3 separate regions of the Homo sapiens genome follow, and all the other regions are linked to region 2. The links come from fine-mapping of genetic effects on gene expression. A gene starts in region 2. Each other region holds a variant in brackets. All regions are shown on one strand. Distances are between the middles of the regions.

The links. PIP is the estimated chance that this variant, and not a neighbour inherited with it, causes the effect.
Region 1: its variant is the best candidate, but not a certain one, in a credible set for the expression of OGG1 in whole blood (TOPMed, PIP 0.64).
Region 3: its variant is the best candidate, but not a certain one, in a credible set for the expression of OGG1 in whole blood (TOPMed, PIP 0.69).

The regions. Positions count from the first base shown.
Region 1 is chr3:9,827,481-9,835,657 of GRCh38, forward strand. It overlaps ARPC4-TTLL3 (ARPC4-TTLL3 readthrough), which reads left to right. Exons shown (of 12, transcript NM_001198793.1): 11 at 1,480-1,915; 12 at 7,201-8,177. The coding sequence ends at 7,341. TTLL3 (tubulin tyrosine ligase like 3) reads left to right here. Exons shown (of 14, transcript NM_001387446.1): 11 at 1,480-1,915; 12 at 5,624-5,765; 13 at 7,201-7,427; 14 at 7,614-8,177. The coding sequence ends at 8,009. Among named protein-coding and RNA genes, the nearest start is that of RPUSD3, 12 kb to the right of the region's middle. RefSeq lists enhancers at 1-205, 7,599-8,098. The variant C/T (reference allele first, on the strand shown) is at 4,438.
Region 2 is chr3:9,745,762-9,753,938 of GRCh38, forward strand. OGG1 (8-oxoguanine DNA glycosylase) reads left to right here and starts at 4,191. Exons shown (of 7, transcript NM_002542.6): 1 at 4,191-4,662; 2 at 5,184-5,431; 3 at 6,009-6,188. The coding sequence starts at 4,526. BRPF1 (bromodomain and PHD finger containing 1) reads left to right here. Exons shown (of 14, transcript NM_001003694.2): 12 at 51-169; 13 at 539-693; 14 at 1,405-2,254. The coding sequence ends at 1,588. RefSeq lists enhancers at 3,765-3,814, 3,845-3,964.
Region 3 is chr3:9,796,521-9,804,697 of GRCh38, forward strand. It overlaps ARPC4-TTLL3 (ARPC4-TTLL3 readthrough), which reads left to right. Exons shown (of 12, transcript NM_001198793.1): 2 at 1,139-1,257; 3 at 3,665-3,776; 4 at 5,141-5,236. It overlaps ARPC4 (actin related protein 2/3 complex subunit 4), which reads left to right. Exons shown (of 6, transcript NM_005718.5): 2 at 1,139-1,257; 3 at 3,665-3,776; 4 at 5,141-5,236; 5 at 7,323-7,493. Among named protein-coding and RNA genes, the nearest start is that of ARPC4, 7.5 kb to the left of the region's middle. The variant G/A (reference allele first, on the strand shown) is at 4,538.

The DNA of each region.
Region 1 (8,177 bases), 82 kb after region 2:
TAGCCTTGACTTCCTGTGCTCAAGCAATCCTTCCTCCTCAGCCTCCCAAGTGTCTGAGACCACAGGCATGTACCACAGCTGATTTTTAAGTTTTTTAATGTAGACATGGGGTCTCACTATGTTGCCCAGGTTGGTCTCAAACTCCTGGGCTCAAGCGATCATCCCACCTTGGCTTCCCAAAGTGCTGGGATTACACTATGCCTGGCCCCTCCAACAGATTTGACCGAGTGTGTACCTTGTGCCATGCACTGTTCTGGGCACTTGGGGTATAGCAGTGAACAAAACAAGATCCCAGCTCTCAAGGGCTTACATTCTAGCAGGGAGAAACAGGCAAGCAAGAACACAAGTGAAATTATCTAACAGGTTAAAAGATTATTTGGGCCAGGCGCAGTGGCTCATGCCTGTAATCCAAGCACTTTGGGAGGCCGAGGTGGGTGGATCACCTGAGGTCAGGAGTTCGAGACCAGCCTGACCAATATAGCGAAACCCCGTCTCTACTAAAAATATAAAAATTAGCCGGGCGTGTTGGCGGGCGCCAGTAGTCCCAGCTACTCGGGAGGCCGTGACAGGAGAATTGCTTGAACCTGGGAGGTGGAGGTTGCAGTGAACTGAGATCGTGCCATTGCACTCCAGCCTGGGTGACAGATCAAGGATCTGTCTCAAAAAAAAAAAAAAAAAAAAAGATTATATTTGTCGTTGGGGGAAAAAGGGAAGCAAATGTAGAGCAGGGGAAAGGAGGTCAGGAGTTTTGAAAACTAAGATGTCGTGTTAACTTCTAGGGTGAGAGAAAGCCTTGTTAAAGCCTGAATTCCAATTCTGTCTCTGCAGCTTCCAAGTTGTTTGAATCTGGTCATGTGAAAACCTATTTAAGCCTTGGTTTCCACATCTGAAGAATGGAGGCAGTAGTATGAAATTCATAGCTATCAATTATTGAGTGCTTCATATGTGATAGTGCTGAGCACTTTGTATACATGATCTCATTCTTAATAAGAACCCAGTGCATACTTCTTGTTCACCAGGTCTGAAGAAAAATATAAAAAACAGTGAAGTGGGTACTGTTACTACCCCCATTTTGCAGATGTGAAGAGCACACAGGTTAGATGACTTCCCTAAGGTCTCACAACTAGTGTGGAGATGGCGCTTGAACACGTCCTGGCGATGACGGGGCCATACCCTTACCCACCCTCTTATCTTCCAGACACTGGGATGGTTAACTGAGACTATGCACAAAGCACTTACTACTGCGGCCCCCGTAACTAGCGCCCTCAGAGCAGCCCTGAGAGATAAGAGTGGTTCTGGCCCTAGAAGAATGTGGTGGGGCCCAGGCCTCTGTCCTTTTTGTCCTTCCCAGTAGGGCCCCATCTCAAGTTGAATAGTGCAGGGTGGCCCAGGGCTGCTTCCAGGACTTGCCTGTCCTCCCTGAGTTTGGATGGGAGAGACACAAGGGCCTGGACCTCAGTTTTCTGTTCTCTGCCCCAGCTCAGTGCACCTGTGCAACAACTCCATCCAGAAGCACCTGGAGAACTCATGCCATCGGCATCCACTGCTTCCGCCAGACAACATGTGGTCTAGCCAGAGGTTCCAGGCCCACCTGCAGGAGATGGGTGCCCCAAATGCTTGGTCCACCATCATCGTGCCTGGCATGAAGGATGCTGTGATCCACGCACTTCAGACCTCCCAGGACACCGTGCAGTGTCGGAAGGCCAGCTTTGAGCTCTATGGCGCTGACTTCGTGTTCGGGGAGGACTTCCAGCCCTGGCTGATTGAGATCAACGCCAGCCCCACGATGGCACCCTCCACAGCAGTCACTGCCCGGCTCTGTGCTGGCGTGCAAGCTGACACCCTGCGCGTGGTCATTGACCGGATGCTGGACCGCAACTGTGACACAGGAGCCTTTGAGCTCATCTATAAGCAGGTGAGGAGGTTGGGCCCAGGCAGGACCCCAGAGAGTCTGCACCCTCTTCCAGGCAGCCCTGCAGTGGAGCATAGGACTCTGCAGTCAGACCCAGTTTAAGACCCAGATTCAAGTCCTGGTCCTGCTAAGGTGACCTCACTTCCTTGAGCCTCAGTTTCCTGATCTTTGAAATGGGGATATTATTACCATCTTTCTCATGGGAATGGGAGAATAAAATGAATTCATGTATGAGGATAATATTTCTAGAGAGGCATATAGCATAGCCATAAGAGCAGAGATTCTGGAATCTCCTTGGGTTCAAATTCCTGTTCAGTGACAACAAGCTATGTGACTTTGGACAAGTTCCTAACCCCTAGGTCTCCTTGTCCGTAAGAATAAAAATAGTACCTAACTCACAAAGTTAGGTACTATGAGTTGTGAGAATTAAATGAGTTGATAAGTAAAGTACTTCATTTATTTATTTTTGAGACAGAGTCTCGCTCTGTTGCCCAGGCTGGAGTGCAGTGGCATGATCTTGGCTCACTGCAACCTCTACCTCCTGGGTTCAAGCGATTCTCCTGCCTCAGCCTCCCAAGTAGTTGGGATTACAGGTGCCTACCACCACGCCTGGCTAATTTTTGTATTTTTAGTAGATACAGGGTTTTGCCATGTTGGCCAGGCTGGTCTCGAGCTCCTGACCTCAGGTGATCCGCCCACCTCGGCCTCCCAAAGTGCTGGGATTACAGGCAGAAGCCACCGTGCCCAGCCAGTAAAGTACTTTAGAATAGTGCCTGGCACGTAGTAAATGCTACTAAGTTTTAGCTAATGTTATTATTACCTAATAAGGTTAGGAGTTTCATCATGTATAACCTGTAAAGTGCCTGAATGTATAGTAATAGGCAATTACTGGTAGCTACTATTATTAGTAGTATTATAATTATTTCACTCGTCTTGCTCCAAAAAGAGATTGGAGTCTACTTGTAAAATAGAACAGCATTTTAAAAAATCAGTCAGAAAATTGATTGCAAGGCTTTCTGAGTTCTGGATAGAATTTCTTGTGGCAGTTTAAGTGGCTTCTGATTAGCCTCCGGTTTCTGTCAAGGTTTGGTTACAGGAAGAGAACGTACTGATCACATGACCTAAGTGACCTCGCCTTTGTTACAGTTGTTATTGATCATTTCTTAAATTAATATATTGGCGTTTTGGTTTCAAAAAATGTAAACGGGGAAATACATGGGCAGGAAAATATGAGCAAGCTGAGGGAAAAGGTGCCATTGTAGTGCAGTGCTCCCAATGCCAGTGCCCAGGCCAGAAGCATCTGAAAGCTTCTAAAGGTATGGATGTGAGGAGGCTCCACCCCCAGAGATTGACCCAAAATGTCTAGCTTGGGGAGGAGACTATGTATATCTGCATTTTTCAAATGCCCCCCAAATATCTTTTTTTTTTGAGACGGGGTCTTGCTCTGTTGCCTAGGCTGGAGTGCAGTGGCACCATCTCGGCTCACTGCAAGCTGCGCCTCCCGGGTTCAAGCGCTTTTCCTGCCTCCGCCCCCTGAGTAGCTGGGACTACAGGTGCCTGCCACCATGCCCGGCTAATTTTTTGTATTTTAGTAGAGATGGGGTTTCACCATGTTAGCCAGGATGGTCTCGATCTCCTGACCTCGTGATTTGCCCGCCTCGGCCTCCCAAAATGCTAGGATTACTGGCATGAGCCACCGCGCCAAGCCCTCTAAATGTCTTTTATTGCTGATTTGTTCTTGTTTTTGTTTTTAGGCCAGCACATAGTAAAGGCTTATACCTTGCACTGTTTTTTTTTGTCTCTTTTCATCTAGGCCAGCCCCAGTGCCTTTTGACCCCATAGTTTTGATCTTTTGAGGGGCCAGGCGGGTTGTTTTGTAGAACTGTCCCACATTCTGGATTTATCTGATTGTTTCCTTATGGTGTGATTTACCTTGGTCTTCTGTTAGCTGATTGTCTCAGGAACTAGAAGTTAGGTCAAATAGTTTGATGAGGTTAAACATTTTTCCCAAGAGCACTTCAGAGGTGATGCCGCGTACCTCATGTGGCATCACAAGGCACATCCTGTGAGAGTGTCTCACAGTTAGTGCTGCTGAGTTTGACTGTGGGTTACAGTGGTGGCTACCAGATTCTCTCCATTATAAGCTACATCTCCCCTTTGCAATTAATTTTTCTGTAAGGTGCTGTGTTGGCTCTGTCCAGATTACACATTTTCCTGTCATCCTTTCATCTAATTGTTTTGATACCAGTTTTGATTATTGCCTATTTTATTAGAGTTGCAAAATGGCAAATGTCTAATTCTGTTGTTCCTTCTGCATTTATTAGCTGAGATTCTTCTGTAAAGATGAACTTTCCCTCATCATCTGGGGCTACTTGGGAGTGCTGATAGCTACATTTTTATTTGATTTTTTTTTTTTTTTTTTTTTAGACAGAGTCTCACTCTGCCACCCAGGCTGGAGTGCAGTGGTGCTAGCTCGGCTCACTGCAACCTCCGCCTCCCGGATTCAAGTGATTCTCCTCAGATCC[C/T]GAGTAGCTGGGATTACAGGCGCCCACCATGGCCGGCTAATTTTTGTGTTTTTAGTAGAGATGGGGTTTCGCCATGTTGGCCAGGCTGGTCTCCAATTCCTGACCTCAGCTGATCCGCCTGTCTTGGCCTCCCAGAGAGCCACCGCGCCCGGCAATAGCTGCATTTTTTTTTTTTTTTTTTTTTTGAGACGGAGTTTCGCTCTTTTCACCCAGGCTGGAGTACAATGGTGCGATCTCGGCTCACTGCAACTTCTGTCTCCTGGGTTCAAGCAATTCTCCTGCCTCGACCTCCCGAGTAGCTGGGATTACAGGTGCCTGCCACCATGACCTGCTAATTTTTTTGTATTTTTAGTAGAGACAGGGTTTGGTTATGTTGGCCAGGCTGATCTCGAACTCTTGACCTCAAGTGATCTGCCAACCTTAGCCTCCCAAAGCTCTGGGATTACAGGTGTGACCACCATGCCCGGCCAATAGCTGTATTTTTAACAAGCTCCAAGTAATTCTGATGTTTAGATAGATTCTGATCAGGATCCTTCAGTGGCACAGAAGATACCTCCAACTGGCTCCAGGTTGCTAGCAAGGCACAGGGAGCTCTCCTGGAGCCCAGCTGAGGGCAGGACATACAGCTTGGCCTGATAGGAACTGAGAGTTGTAAGGGAGTCCCTCTCCTGGACCCTTCTCTCTGCCTTCCTCTGCATATTCGTTACTTCATTCTCTCCACAGACTGTCTTCTTTAAGGTTCTTAGTTTCTGCTACCCCATAACCTGGATTCACACGAGGCTCTAGGCAGGCTCCAAACCTCTTACTTGTCTGGGTGGCGTAACTCAAATTCTCTGTGCAGAGAATCTGATTGGCTCAGCTCAGGAAGCTGTCCACCAGCAGTGGCCTGTGCAGTGGAGCCACACGCATTCCAGCAGGGGCTGGGGGCAGCTTAGGAGGGAAATGTGGCTGAGGGGTGCTGGTGGGACATGGCTAGGATTCCCCCTTCCTCTGGGCTAGCAATTCCTGGAGCTCTGTGACTCTAGGTACTGACTCAGAGGTGGGCTTTCCATTTCTCAGCTCAGAAACGCCTCTTTGACCAGGTGCCTCAGAAAGTAATTCCACCCATCTCTACTCTGGGTCCCGCTGGGCCAAGGATTCCAGTACCACTGACTGAGTGGGCCTTGTCTCCTCTTCTTGCCCACAGCCTGCTGTGGAGGTGCCTCAATATGTGGGCATCCGGCTCCTGGTAGAGGGCTTCACCATCAAGAAGCCCATGGCGATGTGTCATCGGCGGATGGGGGTCCGCCCAGCAGTCCCTCTGCTGACCCAGCGAGGCTCTGGGGAAGGCAAGGACTCGGGGACCCCTACCCACAGGTCAGCTTCTAGGAAAGGCACTGGGGCCAGGAGCCTGGGGCACAGTGAGAAGCCAGTCTCCACTGCCACCACTTCAGCCCCCGGAAAGGGGAAGAAAGGCAAGGCGAAAAGGGCCACAGCCCTGGTCTGCCCCAATCTCTGGGAGTGGGATGCCCCCAGCACCAGGATGGGCTGCATTTTCACCATGACCTTTTCTAGTGGGGACAGGCAACCCCACCACTTGAACAGATTGCCACTGAGTCCGAAGAACCCCCGGGCCCTGGGTAAGACCATTCCCCCAAAACACCCGAGTGTTCCAAGGCGATTTATTCCTGCTCTCCAGGCCCCTCCCAACCACCTGGATCAGCCACCCCACCAAAGAGCCACCAGTAGCAAGTAAAAGCCACTACTCACAAAGTATTGTTTAAAAATACACAGCCAAATTAGCTGGGCACGGTGGTGTGAGCCTGTGGTCCAGGCTACTCGCGAGGCTAATGAGGATCGCTTGAGCCCGGGAGGTTAAGGCTGCAGTGAGTTATGATCGCACCTCTGCACTCCAGCCTGGGAGACAGAGCGAGATGCTGTCTTAAAAACAAAGACACAAAAAAAGCACTTTGGGAGGCCGAGGCGGGCAGATCACTTGAGGTCAGGAGTTCGAGACCAGCCTGGCCAACATGGTGAAACCCCATCTGTACTAAAAAATACAAAAATTAGCCGAGTGTAGGGGCAGGTGCCTATAATCCCAGCTACTTGGGAGACTGAGGCACGAGAATCGCTTGAACCCAGGAAGCGGAGGTTGCAGTGAGCCGAGATTGCACCATTGCACTCCAGCCTGGGCAACAAGAGCAAAACTCTGTCTCAAAAAAAAAAAAAAAAAAAAAACCCAGCCAAATGAGTATTGTCTCCTCCAAAGTAGTCACTCTGCCTCACAGAGTGACTTATTTCAAAGATGACCTGATTTCAAAGATGCCAGGACTTAAGCCCAGGTTGCTCTCTCCAGCGCCCACGCTTTTCCCACTGCAGTATTCTGCCTTTGCCTTCAAGCAGTCACCTCTCGGGGAAAGAACTAACACATGTCCAGCACTTAACAGTTTGCCCCATACCGCTACCTGCCCAGCTCCTTTAGTGTTTACACCAACCTAGCAAGGTAGGTGCTATTATCCCCATTTTCCAGCCGAGGTATCAGGAAGTTTAAGGAAGTTGCCCAAGGTTGCACAGCTCAGAAGGGGCACAGCTGGGATGCAGACCCAGGTCTGTTGGACTCTACCCTGTTTTCTTCTCACTGCCTCTGGAGGAGGAACCGGGAGGGCTCCGTCGGCCTTCACCCCATTCCCTCCATATCCCCCCATCCTCCACACGTACCTGTTAGGGCAGCTAGGCCACCTTGGGCCCCACCCCAGGGCCTCACAGCTTCTCTTGCTCCCACAGCCCGTCACCACTTCCCCAGCCTCCACACCAAGGCCCAGCTGCCTTCTCCCCATGTACTCCGACACCAGGGCCAGGTCCTCAGACGACAGCACAGCAAGCTGGTGGGCACTAAGGCCCTGTCGACCACAGGCAAGGCCTTGAGGACTCTACCCACGGCTAAGGTCTTCATTTCCCTCCCACCGAACCTTGATTTCAAGGTGGCACCCAGCATCCTGAAGCCAAGAAAGGTGGGCCTCGACCTGTGACTCACACCCAGTGGACAGTGCTGAGCACGGGGTCAGGGCTGGAGGGCACAGGCAGAGGGCAGCTCCCAGGCTGGCTGGCACCCCAAGGGAAGAGCTGGTCTCCCTCAGAAGCCCCTTCCTCCACAGACTTCTGATCATCTCCCTCTTCTCCCCTCCTTTCACACCGAGGCTCCTGCTCTCCTGTGCCTCCGAGGCCCCCAGCTGGAAGTGCCTTGTTGCCTCTGCCCTTTGAAGTCGGAACAATTCCTAGCACCTGTCGGAAGGTCAAGGCCAAAGGCAAATTCAAGGCCAGACTGTGACAAACCCAGGGCTGAGGCCTGCCCCATGAAGAGGCTGAGCCCCCTGAAACCCCTGCCCCTTGTTGGTACATTCCAGAGGCGCAGGGGCCTGGGGGATATGAAGCTAGGGAAGCCCCTGCTTCGATTCCCCACTGCCCTTGTCCTGGATCCAACACCAAATAAAAAGAAACAAGTGAAGTATTTGGGGCTTGACTCCATTGCTGTTGGAGGGTCAAGAGTGGATGGGGCGAGGCCGTGTACCCCAGGGTCCACAGCAAGAGCCTGAGGCCATCAGCAGCTCCTCCGTGCAGCGAGGCCCAGAATTCCCACCTAAGGACAGACATGGGGCTTCCTATTTAGGGACTCCCCCAGCATCTCCGATCCAGGGGTGGGGAGCGTGAGCCTTCACTTTACAGATGAAGAAACTGAGTCTGAAAGAGGAGGCATGGCTTAC
Region 2 (8,177 bases):
CGCCAGCCCCCCAGCTGCTGATCCACCCCCTCTCCCCCATTCCTGTGAAGTGGTAAGGAAGAGTCTGGGCCGGGGAGCTGGCTGGCTGTCAGAGGATGAGGACTCCCCGCTGGATGCTCTGGACCTCGTGTGGGCCAAATGCCGAGGCTATCCATCATACCCAGCTCTGGTATGCTTGCTTCTGTTACACTTCTTGCTTTCCAATCCCAGAATACAGATTCACAGTTAGCAGACTTTTCCTACTCCCTGCTGAGCTGTGGGGCACAGAGTTTCTTGGTAAGGTAGACTGGTGGGCAGATACAGCTTGAGTACCACTTAGAGGCTCCCACTCAGTTTCTCCATCTCTCCCTTTTGCTTCTCTTTGCTCCTTGGGCTCTGAAATAATTTAGCATGGAAAGAAGCTGAGGGTCAGCATTGCAGTTCTAGTAGCATGATACCCTCTCTGTCCCCACTTCAGACATACTCTCTAAGTTCTTGAGGAGGAAAAGCCTTGGGAGGACATGGACTGAACCAAACTGGGCTCTTATTATATCCTCAGATCATTGATCCAAAGATGCCCCGAGAAGGTATGTTCCACCATGGGGTTCCCATCCCTGTGCCCCCACTGGAGGTGCTGAAACTTGGGGAGCAGATGACCCAGGAAGCCCGAGAGCATCTCTACCTCGTCCTCTTCTTTGACAACAAACGAACCTGGTAAGGAGGGGAGCATTTGGTGTGACTCACAGCCACAGATGCAGCCCTGTGTGGTATGGGGGCAGACTGCCAGGAAACTCCAGCAACAGGCAGACTGGGCTATCACAAGTCAGTGGGGGAGGGACTTAGAACAGTTTTTTGAGCGAAAGGGTTGTGTCGACCATGTGTCTGAGAGGCTGAGTGGGCACTAGTGGACACAGCTATAGCTAGAAACCAAAGGACCATCAGAGACTTATGACAAATATAGAGGTGGCTCCCACCCAGACTCAGATGGCTTCTAGACTTAGTTTTCCCACCTCTGCCTCCACAGTGACAAAATGAGGATAAAGCAGGCATAAACATTCAGGCTCTGAATCCCTGTTCTGTCACATTTACACATGTAGTCTTTTTGTTAATTGTCTGCAGAGGATATTCAATGTCAGTAAAGTCTGCCTAGAGCCTATGGCACAGGGTAGCTATTTCTGGTGAGGTCAGGGTGCCTCCTTTTTGTACCCATAAATACCCTGTGATTACCCTCCCGCCGCCACCACACAGTATAACTGTTGACTGGGCTCTTTCATCTCTAGACCATGAACAGTCCTTTGAGGGCAGGGACCATCACAGAGTCTGGCCAGAGTGGGTGCTTGGGTGGTGTGTTTGAGTGAATAGAGGAGGAAGGCTGGTCCTTGTTCTCCCTGAGATGATTTATTTGATCTTCACCTTATCCTATAGGCAGTGGCTGCCCAGGACCAAGCTGGTTCCTCTGGGTGTGAACCAGGACCTAGACAAGGAGAAGATGCTGGAGGGCCGCAAGTCCAACATCCGCAAGTCAGTACAGATCGCCTACCACAGGGCTCTGCAGCACCGCAGCAAGGTGCAAGGCGAGCAGAGCAGTGAGACCAGCGATAGTGATTGATACTGCTCAACACAGCCCAACCTATAGTGCCCTGTGACTTCTCTCCTCCCCTTTGCTCACTGTCCTGGAGTGGCACCGGCCTCTGCACTGACTCATTTCTGGTCTTGGGGCCAGTCTCAGGGGAAGCTGGGTGGGGGAGGTCCCTCCTGCCCTAAGTGCAGCTGGACTGTACAGAACACTCCAAGGGCCAATGGCAGTTCAGCGCAAGGAGAGGGAGGGCCCACAGGTCAGAAAAAGCTCCAGAGACCTCACAGCATTGTAGGGCGGGGTGGTGGGCCAAAGTTAGGACACTGCGTAAAACAGGCCATCCCACCACCTCTACCTGCTCATGCCAGGAGAATCCATAACTGCCTAGAGGCCTGGGGCCCCTACCGGTCGTGAGGTGAGTGGGCATCTGTCCAGCCTGGAAGAGGGGCACTAGGTGACTCCCTCCCCTGCTGTTGTAAATACTGTAATTATCGGAGAATTTAAATTATTCTCATTTGTAACTGCGTTTCCGGGTCGCGCCAGAGTCATTTGGTACTAAAAAAAAAAAAAAAAAAGACTGGGGGCTGTCCCCATTTCCCTTCTCTTTCCCATAGATTCCCCCACCTTTCAAACTGGTTTGTATTTATTTCAAAGGAAGAAAATATATTGATTCTTAGAAAATAAACTGTCAATTTAGAATTCTTTGTTCTTGCCCCCTGCCAGGGCAAAGGGGATACAAAGGGAGGTTCTGTGCCCCAGGGATGATACATAATTGGGCCCAAGTGGTTGCTGACTGCTGTGCATGCTACATTTCATAAGACACAGCAAAGAGAGCCCCTGTTGCCCATGCATGGAGTGAGTGGCAGGCCCTGTGTTGAGCACCTTTAGACATTCAGCTTTGCGTAATCCTTGCAATAACTATAGGGTAGTTTAATAATAGACTGGTTATCTCCACAAAGATGCTGAAGTTTCAAAAAATTATCTTGCCTAAGTTCCTACAACTAGGAAGGTGCAGAGCTAGAATTGGAACCCAGGTCTGTTTGCAAACCTGGCTCTTCAACCAGTATGCTGAACTGCCAGGGGAAGAGTCAACTATCGATTCCTACTTGGCCCTTAGAGGCCTCAAGTCCTTTGCCAGTGGCATGGCCCAAGTGTTTCAGCATCAATACAGCTGAGACCTTCCCCACTGCTTAACCGGAGACAGAGCTGGGATGGAGACGGTTGCTCTTTGCTCACCCCCAACCTCAGCACCTTCTTTCCAGACTCCACCGACATTTATTGAAGGAATGCCTTCCAAGTGCTAGGCGCCTGTGGGATGGCATGCCTACAGATAGGAACAGTCACAGGAAGAAGGGGCGGCCCAGGCCTTGCAGCCACTGAGGACTGGCACTGAGACAATGATGGCACTGGTCTGATGTTGATTCCATGCTGACGGTACACTCCGCTAGGTCTCTGGCTGGGACACAAGGGTCAATCCGCTGCAGATGTTGCTCTTCAAGAATTTGCAGTCTGGGCGGGGTGCGGTGGCTCACGCCTGTAATCCCAACACTTTAAGAGGCCGAGGCGGCTGGATCACGAGGTCAAGAGATCGAGACCATGCTAGCCAACATGGTGAAACCCCATCTCTACTAAAAATACAAAAATTAGCTGGGCGTGGTGGCGCGCACCTGTAGTCCCAGCTACTCGGGAGGCTGAGGCAGGAGAATCGCTTGAACCCGGGAGGCGGAGCTTGCAGTGAGCCGAGATCGCGCCATCACACTCCAGCCTAGGCGACAGAGTGAGACTCCGTCTCAAAGAAAAAAAACTTGCAGCCTGATAGTTAAGATACAGCAACCCCAAATCCCTATGCTAAAAGGTGAGAATGGCCCAGATAAAGGTCATGTCTCCTAGCTCCCTGCTTTTTCATGCCATCCTCCAGAAGGGAAGAAATTAAATAATCCATCCTCCTACTCCAGGCGACTAGAAGGCAGGCTGCCTCAGGGCCACACACTGGGACTTGGACTCAACCTGATGGGCTTCTGGGCCCAGCCCCAGACAAACCCCCGGCAAACGTCCCATTCCGAGGAAAGCATGAGCAGATGGAGTATGGAAGAAATGCCCAAGACGGCAGGCAGCAGCTGTGGCGGCCGGCGGGACGACAATCCGAGGAGAGGCCTCTGATGTCCTGAGGTCTCAGAGGACGCCTAAAGGCCTTGAATGGGACAAGCTTAGCGGGCGGGCGCAGAAGAGAATAATACTCTGGAGACACTTCCCGAGGGCTCTGGGGCCGGAGCTGTGTTCGCTCCGGTTCTTGGTGAAGACAGGGTTCGTGGGAGGCGGCCCAAGGAGGGCGAACGCCTAAGACTGCAAAGGCTCGGGGGAGAACGGCTCTCGGAGAACGGGCTGGGGAAGGACGTGGCTCTGAAGACGGACAGCCCTGAGGAACCGCGGGGCGCCCAGATGGAACTCGTTAGCGCCCCGAGTGCAGACAATCCCGGAGGGGGAAAGGCGAGCAGCTGGCAGAGAGCCCAGTGCCGGCCAACCGCGCGAGCGCCTCAGAACGGCCCGCCCACCCTGATTTCTCATTGGCGCCTCCTACCTCCTCCTCGGATTGGCTACCTCTAGGTGAAATGAGCGGTGGTTGAGCCCTACTTCCGGTGGTGCTGTGGTCTGCCCCTGGAGAACCCAGAAGAACACAGCTGTGCGCGCCCACAGGCTCTGGGGGCGGGAGAAGATAAGTCGCAAGGAGGGGGCGGGACCTACACCTCAGGAAAGCCGGAGAATTGGGGCACGAAGCGGGGCTTTGATGACCCGCAAAGGGCGAGGCATGCAGGAGGTGGAGGAATTAAGTGAAACAGGGAAGGTTGTTAAACAGCACCGTGTGGGCGAGGCCTTAAGGGTCGTGGTCCTTGTCTGGGCGGGGTCTTTGGGCGTCGACGAGGCCTGGTTCTGGGTAGGCGGGGCTACTACGGGGCGGTGCCTGCTGTGGAAATGCCTGCCCGCGCGCTTCTGCCCAGGCGCATGGGGCATCGTACTCTAGCCTCCACTCCTGCCCTGTGGGCCTCCATCCCGTGCCCTCGCTCTGAGCTGCGCCTGGACCTGGTTCTGCCTTCTGGACAATCTTTCCGGTGAGTGACTGAGCCTGAGAAGCCTGTCCCCTCGGACTGGCTCCTGCCGCCTCAACACTGCCTGGCATGGGGTACAAAGGAATTTGGGGGATGATGGAAGAAACCCGGGGTACAAAAGAGGAAACAAGCACGGGTAGCCAACCTGTTACCTTTAATATGTCTGTACAGTGATAATTGTAAGGATCCAGCGGTATAACCGATGCAGAAGATAATAGCACTTGTTTTTCTTTTTTTGAGACAGGGTCTCGCTCTGTTGCCCAGGTAGGAATGCAGAGAGGCCCATTCCAGCCTCGACCCCCCGGGCGCAGCCTCCCGAGTAGCTGGGACTACAGGTGTGCGCCATGCCCGGTTAAATTTTTGTATTTTTTGTAGAGGTGAGGTTTCGCCATGTTGCTCAGACTGGAAGATAGCACTGTTACTTGTATTAGTTTCGTACATGGAGCTATTGTAGGATAGGAGGGACCCCAAAGGGTGCAAGAAAGGAAATTGAGTGCCAGGGTTGTCATGTGCCTTGGGCTCAGGTGGAGGGAGCAAAGTCCTGCACACTGGAGTGGTGTACTAGCGGATCAAGTATGGACACTGACTCAGACTGAGGAGCAGCTCCACTGCACTGTGTACCGAGGAGACAAGAGCCAGGCTAGCAGGCCCACACCAGACGAGCTGGAGGCCGTGCGCAAGTACTTCCAGCTAGATGTTACCCTGGCTCAACTGTATCACCACTGGGGTTCCGTGGACTCCCACTTCCAAGAGGTGGCTCAGAAATTCCAAGGTGAGTACAGGACCTGGGCTGGGGTTAGGGTTCTTGGACATAAGTCACTTCTCTATGACTCAGTTTTGCCACCTGTAAAATGGGGATTATATCTACTTCATAGGCTTTTATGAGGATTTAAGGAACTAATACATGTAAAGTGCTTAGAATAATGCCAGGCACATAGTAAGTATTATTACCATTATTATTATCCTGCTAATCACCATAGTGAAGTGACAAGGATTTTGAGCCCATTCCTGGTTGTGTGACCTAGGGCAAGTGATTTCATTCATTCTGTAAATATATACAAAGCATCTGCTGTGTGACCGGGGATACACCAGTGAACAAAACAGACCCAAATGCCAGTCCTCATGGAGCTTACATTGTGGCCTCTTTATCTGTGGAATGGGATGGTAACTCAGCCCTCACAAGATGCTATGAGGAATGAGAGGTCTGGTGTTGCTTTCTCTAACGGTGCTGACTCTCATTCTCCTGGGATCCTCCTGGAGTTTTGGTACCTAGGATCTGACCTGTGGGTGGGAAGAGGCCACACCCAACAGCAGGTACCTCTCCTACCCCCTGCATTTCTGGTCTCCAGGTGTGCGACTGCTGCGACAAGACCCCATCGAATGCCTTTTCTCTTTTATCTGTTCCTCCAACAACAACATCGCCCGCATCACTGGCATGGTGGAGCGGCTGTGCCAGGCTTTTGGACCTCGGCTCATCCAGCTTGATGATGTCACCTACCATGGCTTCCCCAGCCTGCAGGCCCTGGCTGGTGAGTAGGTGGGTCCCCTGCCCCCAGGCCTTCCATCAGCTTTCAAGATCTGTTCATTTCTCCCCTGGTTACCTTCTCAAGGCTTCCTGCCTTCCCAAACACTTCCCCTATCCAGAACCGCCCTGCCTGGTCTGATCAACTCCAGTTACTCATCCTCCCTATGCATCCCTAAAATGTCAGCACCTCACTGGTCTGTGCTTTTTGCCCAATGGGTTCAATGCCTAATCAGAAAAATATCTGTATACAATGTACAGTAGTTTGGGGTTAAGAGCATGCATTCTGGGGACAGACCCATGCCTGGTTCTGAACCCCAACTCTCACTTGGGCACATTATTTAGCATCTCTGTACTAAAGTTTCTTCATCTGTGAAGTAGAATAATAATAGCACCTACCTATGCTATTATTGGAGTTGTCATGAGGGTTGAAGAAAGGAATATACATACTGCACCTAGCACAGTGTTTGGCACACAGGAAGTATATGTAAAATTCAAGCTGGTATCAGCCAGGCGCAGTGGCTCACACCTGGCTAACACAGTGAAACCCCGTCTCCAGCCTGGGCAACAGAGCGAGACTCTGTCTCAAAAAAAAAAAAAAAAAAAAAAATTCAAGCTGGTATCATTGTAGTGAATGGGATAGTTTTGTATCTAAGAACACGTGTGTTCTTCACAGTAGCCCTGTAAGGCAAATGTTTTACAGAGGCAAGTGTATCGATTGGCAGATGTGAGAACCAAGCTAGGACAAGTGCTTGGGAACTGCATAGCAAAGAGACAGACTGCCTCAAAACAGGAGAATGTTTTTGGTGCTTAGAAACCCATTCCTGGCCGGGCGTGGTGGCTCACGCCTGTAATCCCAACACTTTGGGAGGTCGAGGCAGGCAGATCATCTGAGGTCAGGAGTTCAAGACCAGCCTGGCCAACATGGTGAAACCCCATCTCTACTAAAAATACGAAAATTAGTCAGGCGTGATGGCAGGCACCTGTCCCAGCTACTCCGGAGGGTGAGGCAGGAGAATTGCTTGAACCCGGGAGCAGGAGGCTCCAGTGAACCAAGATCAGACCACAGCACTCCAGCCTGGGTTACAGAGCGAGACTCCATCTCAAAACAAACAAAAAGAAACCTGGGTCAGGCACGGTGGCTCACACCTGTAATCCCAACACTTTGGGAGGCTGAGGCAGGTGGATCACCTGAGGTCGGGAGTTTGAGACCAGACTGGCCAACCTGGTGAAACCCGCTCTCTGCTAAAAATTAGCTGGGCGTGGTGGCAGGTACCTGTAATCCCAGCTACTCAGGAGGCTGAGGCGGGAGAATCATTTGAACCTGGGAAGCAGAGGTTGCAGTGAGCTGAGATCATGCCATTGCACTCCAGCCTGGGCGACAGGGCGACAGGGCGAGACTCCGTCTCAAAAAAAAAAAAAAAACCTGGCCGGGCGTGGTGGCTCACACCCGTAATCCCAGCATTTTGGGAGGCCGAGGCGGGTGGATCACGAGGTCAGGAGATCAAGACCATCCTGCCTAATACGGTGAAACCCCGTCTCTACTAAAAATACAAAAAAAATTAGCCGGGTGTGGTGGTGGGCGCCTGTAGTCCCAGCTACTTGGGAGGCTGAGGCAGGAGAATGGCGTGAACCCGGGAGGCGAAGCTTGCAGTGAGCCGAGATCGTGCCACTGCACTCCAGCCTGGGCGACAGAGTGAGACTCTGTCTCAACAAAAAAAAAAAGAAACCTGTTCTTGAGTCTCAGCTCCTGGCTTAGTTAGTCATAAGGCCTCAAGAAAGTCATTCACCTCTTCCGGCTTCTCTTAGCTTGTTTGTAGAATGGGAATAACAGTTTCTATCTAGAAGGGCTTTGGGAGTGAATAAAGCAATCATGAGGCAGTGTAGTGTAATGGGTTAAGAGCACGGCGTTAGCCAGGTGGGGTAGCTCATGCTGGTAATTTCAGCACTTTTGGGAGCCCAAGGTGGGAGGATGGCTTGAGCCCAGGAGTTTGAG
Region 3 (8,177 bases), 51 kb after region 2:
AGGCAAAGAAAGAGGAGAAAAGCCTACAGATAGATGGTCAAGCATGTGTAAAGCTCTGAGGTGGGAAAGAATTTGGCTGATACAAGGACTGACCAGTGCAGCTAGAAGCTAATCCCTCTCCTAAGAATGTCCTTATTCTGGCAGGGTGTGGTGGCTCACGCCTGTAAACCCAGCACTTTGGGAGGCCAAGGCGGGCAGATTACAAGGTCAGGAGATTGAGACCATCCTGGCTAACACCGTGAAACCCTGTCTCTACTAAAAATACAAAAAGTTAGCCGGGTGTGGTGGTGGGCGCCTGTAGTCCCAGCTACTTGGGAGGCTGAGGCAGGAGAAGGGCATGAACCCGGGAGGTGGAGCTTGCAGTGAGCCGAGATCGTGCCACCGCGCTCCAGCCTGGGCAACAGAGCGAGACTCTGTCTCAAAAAAAAAAAAAAAAAAAGAATGTCCTTATTCTCCTTTTTCTCCTCCTAATCCCATTTCACCTTCAAAACCAGTTTCTTCTGCAAATATAGATTACTTGTAAATCTAAATATTTCACATGTCATCTTTATATCATAGTTATTTTCTGTATATTTGCTATCCAGTTGAGCTGTTTGAGGGTAGAGACAGTGTTAATCATCTTTGAATTCCCAGTTAGCTCAGTGCGTGGCAAACAGTACACCTATACATTTGTTGGCCTAATAGATTGACGACAATCATGCATTCACTGGTGTGTCTCTAGATCACTTTCTCAACCTTAGCACTATTGATATTTGAGTCTCGATAATTCTTTGTAGTGCATTGTAGTATGTTTAGTGGATATCTGTCCACTGAATGCCTGCAGTTCCCCTTCTTGCCAAGTCATGACAATTGAAAATGTCTCAGCATTCCTCTGGTCTGACCCCAGGTTAAAAAAGAAAGAAAGGAAATGTCTCGACATTACCAAATGTACCCTGGCAGGCAAAATTGTCTCCTGTTGAAAACTACCACTCTACACCTTGGAAGGCGTCTCGAAGGCCTAGTCTGTTCTGTTCACAGTAGTGTCTTAAGAGCCTTGCACCCTCAGTGCTACCTGGCTTCATGGGAGCTGGAATAGGGGATCGGTGGGTTTGGCGTGACAGATTTTGATCTTCCCTTTCCTCTGTGTTATTTCCTATAGACTGCCACTCTCCGCCCCTACCTGAGTGCCGTGCGGGCCACATTGCAGGCTGCCCTCTGCCTGGAGAACTTCTCCTCCCAGGTTGTGGAACGACACAACAAGCCGGAAGTGGAAGTCAGGTAGGGAAGGACAAGTCAAGGTGGGGATGAGGGGTGCAGCACACAGAGATGGCTGCTGTCTAGAAGGTGCCATGAACTTATGTCCTGCAGTAGTCAGGAAAGCTGCAGTTGACATTTTGTCTTGCTGCCAGCTGAATGGTGATTCCCAATTTGGAGTTAAGAAAATAGGGTCAGTGGGTTGGCAGGACAGAACCCAGGGGAAAAGACAAGATTGGTTAACACAAGGTATGACTTCTCAGAGCAGGGCTGTTGATGAAGTCTCTCCTGTGGCATTGTTGAAAACACTGGTAGTTTAAGGAATGGTCAGATAATTGTTATCTGAGATTCCATCTCCATACTTTTCTTTTTTTTTTTTTTTTTTCCCATCTCCATACTTTTCTAATGTAATGATCAGGGATTTTTTTTTTACCTACCAGCCTAGACACTCTGACCCCCTAATCCAAATACTTCATATTTTGAATGATTTTCTCTTATCTAGTTTCCATTTCATAAATATCTTTTTCCCCTTTAAAATTTAATCTGGAGGCCTGGTGCAGTGGTTCACCCCTGTAATCCGAGCACTTTAGGAGGCTGAAGTGGGTAGATCGCTTGAGTACAGGAGTTCAAGACCAGCCTGGGCAACATGGCAAGACTCCATCTCTACCAAAAAAATATGCAAAAATAGTCAGGCATGGTGGCACATGCCTGTAGTCCCACTTCTCTGGAGGCTGAGGCAGGAGGATCTCTTGAGCCTGGGAAGCAGAGGTTGCAATGAGCCAACATTGCGACAGTGCACTCCAGCCTGGGTGAGACCCTGTCTCAAAAAATAAGTAAATAGGCCGGGCACAGTGGCTCACGCCTGTAATCCCAGCACTTTGGGAGGCCGAGGCAGACAGATTATGAGGTCAAGAGATCGAGAGCATCCTGGCCAACATGGTGAAACCTTGTCTCTACTAAAAATACAAAAATAAGCTGGGCATGGTGGTATGCACCTGTAGTCCCAGCTACTCGGGAGGCTGAGGCAGGAGAATTGCTTGAACCTGGGAGGCGGAGGTTGCAGTGAGCCAAGATCGTGCCACCGCACTCCAGCCTGGCAGCAGAGCAAGACTTCGTCTCAAAAATAAAATAAAATAAAATAAAATAAAATAAAATTCATTCTGGTACATACATAACTGAGATAATCTGGGTTACAACATTAAATGATACGATTTAATTTTTAATTTTAAAAATAACTGATAAAGATGTTAGGATATGCCCTGTTATACTGTGTAACGTACACGATTTCCAGTGGGCCTTTGAAAATGGTTAGCAGTTTAGAGACACCACACCACAATTAATTACTATTAGAGATCTCTAGGTATTCAGAGGCATTACTTTGTAACCTGAACTCATAGGGGTCTCAGAGGCAAATGAATCATTTCTGGATTGATAATTAAAGGAAGCCAAACTGTGTTCAATTTTAGCCTTTCCTTACCTCTAAGACAGGTGTTCTCTCTGTATTCCTAAATGGTATATTGGTTTGCCTGTACAGGTTGAGTATCTCTTATCCAAAATGCTTGGGACCAAAAGTATTTCAGATTGTGGAATATTTGCAGATACTTAACCAGTTGAGCATCCCTAATTCCAAATCCAAAATGCTCCAATGAGGATCTCCTTTGAGCATCTTGTCAGCACTCGGAAACTTTCAGGTTTTTTTTTTTTTTTGAGATGGAGTTTGATTCTGTCACCCAGGCTGGAGTACAGTGGTATGATCTTGGCTCACTGCAACTGCCACCTCCTGAGTTCGAGCAATTCTCGTGCTTCAGCCTCCTGAGTATCTGGGATTATAGGAGTGCGCCACCATGCCCAGCTAATTTTTATATTTTTAGTACAAATGGGATATCACCATGTTGGCCAGGCTGGTCTCGAACTCCTGACCTCAGGTGATCCACCAGCCTCAGCCTCTCAAAGTGCTGGGATTACAGGCATGAGCCACTGTGCCCAGCCAGTTTCAGATTTTGGATTTCAGATTTGCAGATTGGGGATGTTCAACTTGTAGTTACTAAAATAGCTATCTTTTGTAAAGCTCCTACTATGTGCCAGGCACGCTATTAGACATTTGACCCTTTTTGATCTCTCTCAGTCCTCGCCAGTGAATTAGGAATCAGAGTCATTTTACAGATGAGAAAATTGAGATTCCAACAGGGTAACTTGCCCAAGGAAAGTAACAGAGGAGGCTGGATTTCAAAACCTTTTCGCCCTGACTTCAGAGCCTGTGCTCTTTCTGCTGAAGAACACACTCACTGGCCCCCATCTTGGAGCACTCCTGCTTGTGAGTCTTCTATTCCTTGGACTCTATGGTCTCATAGTGATTCCAGGACCTGCGTGGGGTCACTCTGACTATTCTATCCCTCTGTAGTACAAGTACTCTGTCACATTATGTTTTCAGGAGTAGCAAAGAGCTCCTGTTACAACCTGTGACCATCAGCAGGAATGAGAAGGAAAAGGTTCTGATTGAGGGCTCCATCAACTCTGTCCGGGTCAGCATTGCTGTGAAACAGGTAAGTTCACCATGGAGGAGGCCCAACGTAAGGCCTCTTTCAGTCCTTTCAGCCTCTTTCAGTCCGGGGTCCCCATCTGAGAGATCAGTGTGCCAGATTCCAGATTCAGAGTGCAGGAAACCTAGCCTCTGCTTCCTTTTTTTTTGACACGGATTCTCACTCTTGTCGCCCAGGCTGGAGTGCAGCAGCATGATCTCAGCTCACTGCAACCTCTGCCTCCCGGGTTCAAGCAGTTCTTCTGTCTCAGTCTCCCAAGTAGCTGGGATTACAGGCATCCGCCACCACGCCCAGTTAATTTTTGTATTTTTAGTAGAGACAGAGTTTCACCATGTTTGCCAGGATGGTCTCCATCTCCTGACCGCAGGTGATGGGCCCGCCTCAACCTCCCAAAGTACTGGGATTACAGTCATGAGCCACCATGCCTGGCCAGTAGAGGGCAACTCTAAACTTTCAACAGGATGAAAACGAAGCACTGTTATTAAATGCAGACTACACACTGTTTTCTACAGAAACTTATAAACCTGGGGCCTGCTTTCCTTGCTAAAATGGGAGGTTAACAAGTGTTGAGAGGTGTTAAGGGCATGCTAGCAACCAGCAGCAATAATCTTCCTTTAGAAATGTTGAGAGTTCAGGGCCAGGCACAGTGGCTCATGCCTGTAATCCCAGCACTTTGGGAGACCAAGGCGGGTGGATCACTTGATGTCAGGAGTTCAAGACCAGCCTGGCCAACATGGTAAAACCCTGTCTCTACTAAAAATACA[G/A]AAATTAGCCAGGCGTGGTGGCACGCGCCTGTAATCCCAGCTACTTGGGAGGCTGAGGCAGGAGAATCGCTTGAACCCGGGAGGCAGAGCTTACAGTGAGTCAAAATCGTACCACTGCACTCCAGCCTGGGTGACAGAGCGAGATTCCATCTCAGAAAAAAAAAAAAAAAAAAAAAAAAAGAAATGTTGAGCATTCAGAAGGGAGAAACTTCAGGGATTGTTGGATGTTCAGTGTTATTAAAGCAGAGACCACCTAAGGTTATCTCTGATAGCCCAGGTGATGCTGCAAAACACCCTGGGAAATGTGACACTAGTGAAATGAGAATGGAAAGGGCAGCTTGGAGTACAGCTGTAGACTCTGAAAGAAGCAATAGAAGCCTGTCAGAATTACCTCTCTGGAATGGGTCGTCATTAAGAGATGCCCCAAGGTAGACCCTTGTTTCAGTTGACAGCCAGGTCCCCCACTTCAGTGATCCTTCCGAGTACCAAACCTCACTGTCTCCTGGGAGCCTTGAAAAAACTGGAGTCAGAAGACCAGGCTACAAGGTGTTTTTGGCCTTGGGTGTCAGCTTTAGAGAAACATTTCTCTCTTGCACTCCCCAGGCTGATGAGATCGAGAAGATTTTGTGCCACAAGTTCATGCGCTTCATGATGATGCGAGCAGAGAACTTCTTTATCCTTCGAAGGAAGCCTGTGGAGGTGAGACCCTGTGACCCATGAGTTTGCGATACCCAGGACCCTGTTACAGAATGGCCTGGGATTGTTTCTAGAACCAGCTACTCCAGCTGTTTGGCACCCACTGCCTGAATTGAGAGTTGGCCTTCATCTTGGAGTGGGAGCAAAGAGGATTAGAAGCTTAGGAAAAGTTGGGTCTACCTCAGCCATAGAAAAGGCAAAAAAGAGCCGGGCGTGGTGGCTCATGCCTCTAATCCCAACACTTTGGGAGGCCGAGGTGGGTGGATCATGAGGTCAGGAGTTCAAGACCAGCCTGGCCAACATGGTGAAACCCCATCTCTATTAAAAATACAAAAATTAGCTGGGCATGGTGGTGGGCGCCTGTAATCCTAGCTACTCAGGAGGCTGAGGCAGAGAACTGGTTGAACCTGGGAGGCGGAGGTTGTAGTGAGCCAAGATCGTGCCACTGTACTGCAGCCTGGGCGACAGAGCAAGACTCCGTCTCAAAAAAAAAAAAAAAAAAAAAAAAGGCAAAAAAGATAAGACACATTGCTTATTCCCGGAGCCTATAGTCTAGCATCAGAAAGAGCACAGTGAATTAGAAATCCTTTCTAAGATCTGCCAAATGAATCATAGTCTCTCTCTCTTTTTTTTTTTCTTTGAGACGGAGTCTCGCTCTGTCGCCCAGGCTGGAGTGCAGTGGCACAATCTTGGCTCACTGCAAGCTCCGCCTCCCGGGTTCACGCCATTCTCCTGCCTCAGCCTCCTGAGTAGCTGGGACTACAGGCGCCCACCACCACACCTGGCTAATTTTTTGTATTTTTAGTAGAGACGGGGTTTCACCATGTTAGCCAGGATGGTCTCGATCTCCTGACCTCGTGATCTGCCTGCCTCGGCCTCCCAAAGTGCTGGGATTACAGGCTTGAGCCACCGCGCCTGGCCTTTTTTTTTCTTTTTTTGAGATGGAGTTTTGCTTTTGTTGCCCAGGCTGGAGTGCAGTGGCGCAGTCTCACTGACTGCAACCTTCCACCTCCCAGGTCAAGTGATTCTCCTGCCTCAGCCTCCCGAGTAGCTGGGATTATAGGCACGCATGTGCTACCATGCCCAGCTAATTTTGTATTTTTAGTAGTTTCATTGTGTTGGCTAGGCGGTCTCAAACTCCTGACCTCAGGTGATCCGCCTGCCTCGGCCTCCCAAAGTGAATCATAGTCTGCAATCTGGGCTCACTGCAAGCTCCGCCTCCTGGGTTCACGCCATTCTTCTGCCTCAGCCTCCCGAGTAGCTGGGACTACAGGTGCCCGCCACCATTCCCGGCTAATTTTTTGTATTTTTAGTAGAGACGGGGTTTCACTGTGTTAGCCAGGATGGTCTTGATCTCCTGACCTTGTGATCCGCCCACCTCGGCCTCCCAAAGTGTTGGGATTACAGGCGTGAGCCACCGCGCCCGGCCCACTGAATCAGTCTCTTAAAGCCACAGTTAACATTGGGTCAGTTGTTGCCTGAATTTGTACTTGAATCTTCTCCACAGACTCCTTGCCAGGTAAACTTAAAATATCCCCAGTGACTAAGCAACTACCACACAGCAGCATGTGCCATCATCAGACACGTCAGGCGTGTTAGCCAAGTTCTTCCTCATTCTGAGCCAAATTTTCTCTCCTGGTCCTAGATCTAACCTCTGGGGCCACCCGGAATAAATAAAATTGATCTTCCTCCCACAGCCCTCCAGCAGAAAAAGACCCTTAATCCCACCCATCTTCCACATCATCTCTTCTCTGGACTAAATGTTCCCTGTTGTTTGATTAGATTATTCTGTAACAAGACTTCAAGTTCCTTGACTCATTCTGAATGCAGAGCTGTTGTGCCACAGATAGTTTTCCAGAGATGTCTGATACACACAGAATTCTCAACGGGGTTCAGTTGCTTGGATCCAACCTAGACACCCTCCCCCAGAGCAGCTGGGCTGCTGACTGGAAGGGTATGTAGCTTGGGAGAAGATCACAGCCAGTGGGAAGCATGTGGATGAGTGGAGGACATGACCAGCTCAGTTCCCATGGGGTGCTAATTCTCTCCTGTTCCTTCTCTTCCCCCTCCCTACTGTCTTCTTCCCTAGGGGTATGATATCAGCTTTCTGATCACCAACTTCCACACAGAGCAGATGTACAAACACAAGTTGGTGGACTTTGTGATCCACTTCATGGAGGAGATTGACAAGGAGATCAGTGAGATGAAGCTGTCAGTCAATGCCCGTGCCCGCATTGTGGCTGAAGAGTTCCTTAAGAATGTGAGTAGGGGCCTTTAGCTTTCCTTCCAGAGGCCAGAGGATCTGGGGGTCATGTTGAGAACTTAGCATCTGGTGGGAAAGGGGTCCAAGCAGTGTGTTTATATCTCCTGAGCTCTCTAGGACCCCTGGGGCACAGCAGGTCAGTCAGGTGCTTTGGAGCTAGAGGACCCCAAGTTCATCTCTGAGAGCTACAAGGCATTTTCTATATTTGGGTGTCTGGGGTGGCTCTTAGTCTCTCGTAGGAACTTGGTCACTCATTTCTACATCTCAGGATGTTCACAAAGTCCTTGCCTCTATCTCGTTTAAACCCCAAGTGAGGTAAGTGAAGTCTGCATGTGAATTTTCTAGGAGTATAGGACAATTAATCATGTTATGATTCCACTTCTCAAATAGACTTCAGTACTTTCCTTCAGCATGTTTCTCAGGCTTAAATCATGATTCCTTCAACCTGTTTTCCATCACTTGCATGGCGTAAGTCCTCCAGATTCCTCTTACGTTGTTTATGTCTTTCTAATTGAAAGCACTTTAGTCATCTGAAGAGGTAGAATTGTTTACATTGATGAACTGGTGACATCGTTCTTAGTTGTTTAGATATTCAGAACATGCCTTTTTTTTTCTCCTTTTTCCAAGCAATCTTTGGTTTGTTGACATGTGCCACCCAGAGTGGCTGTGATCTCTAGACGG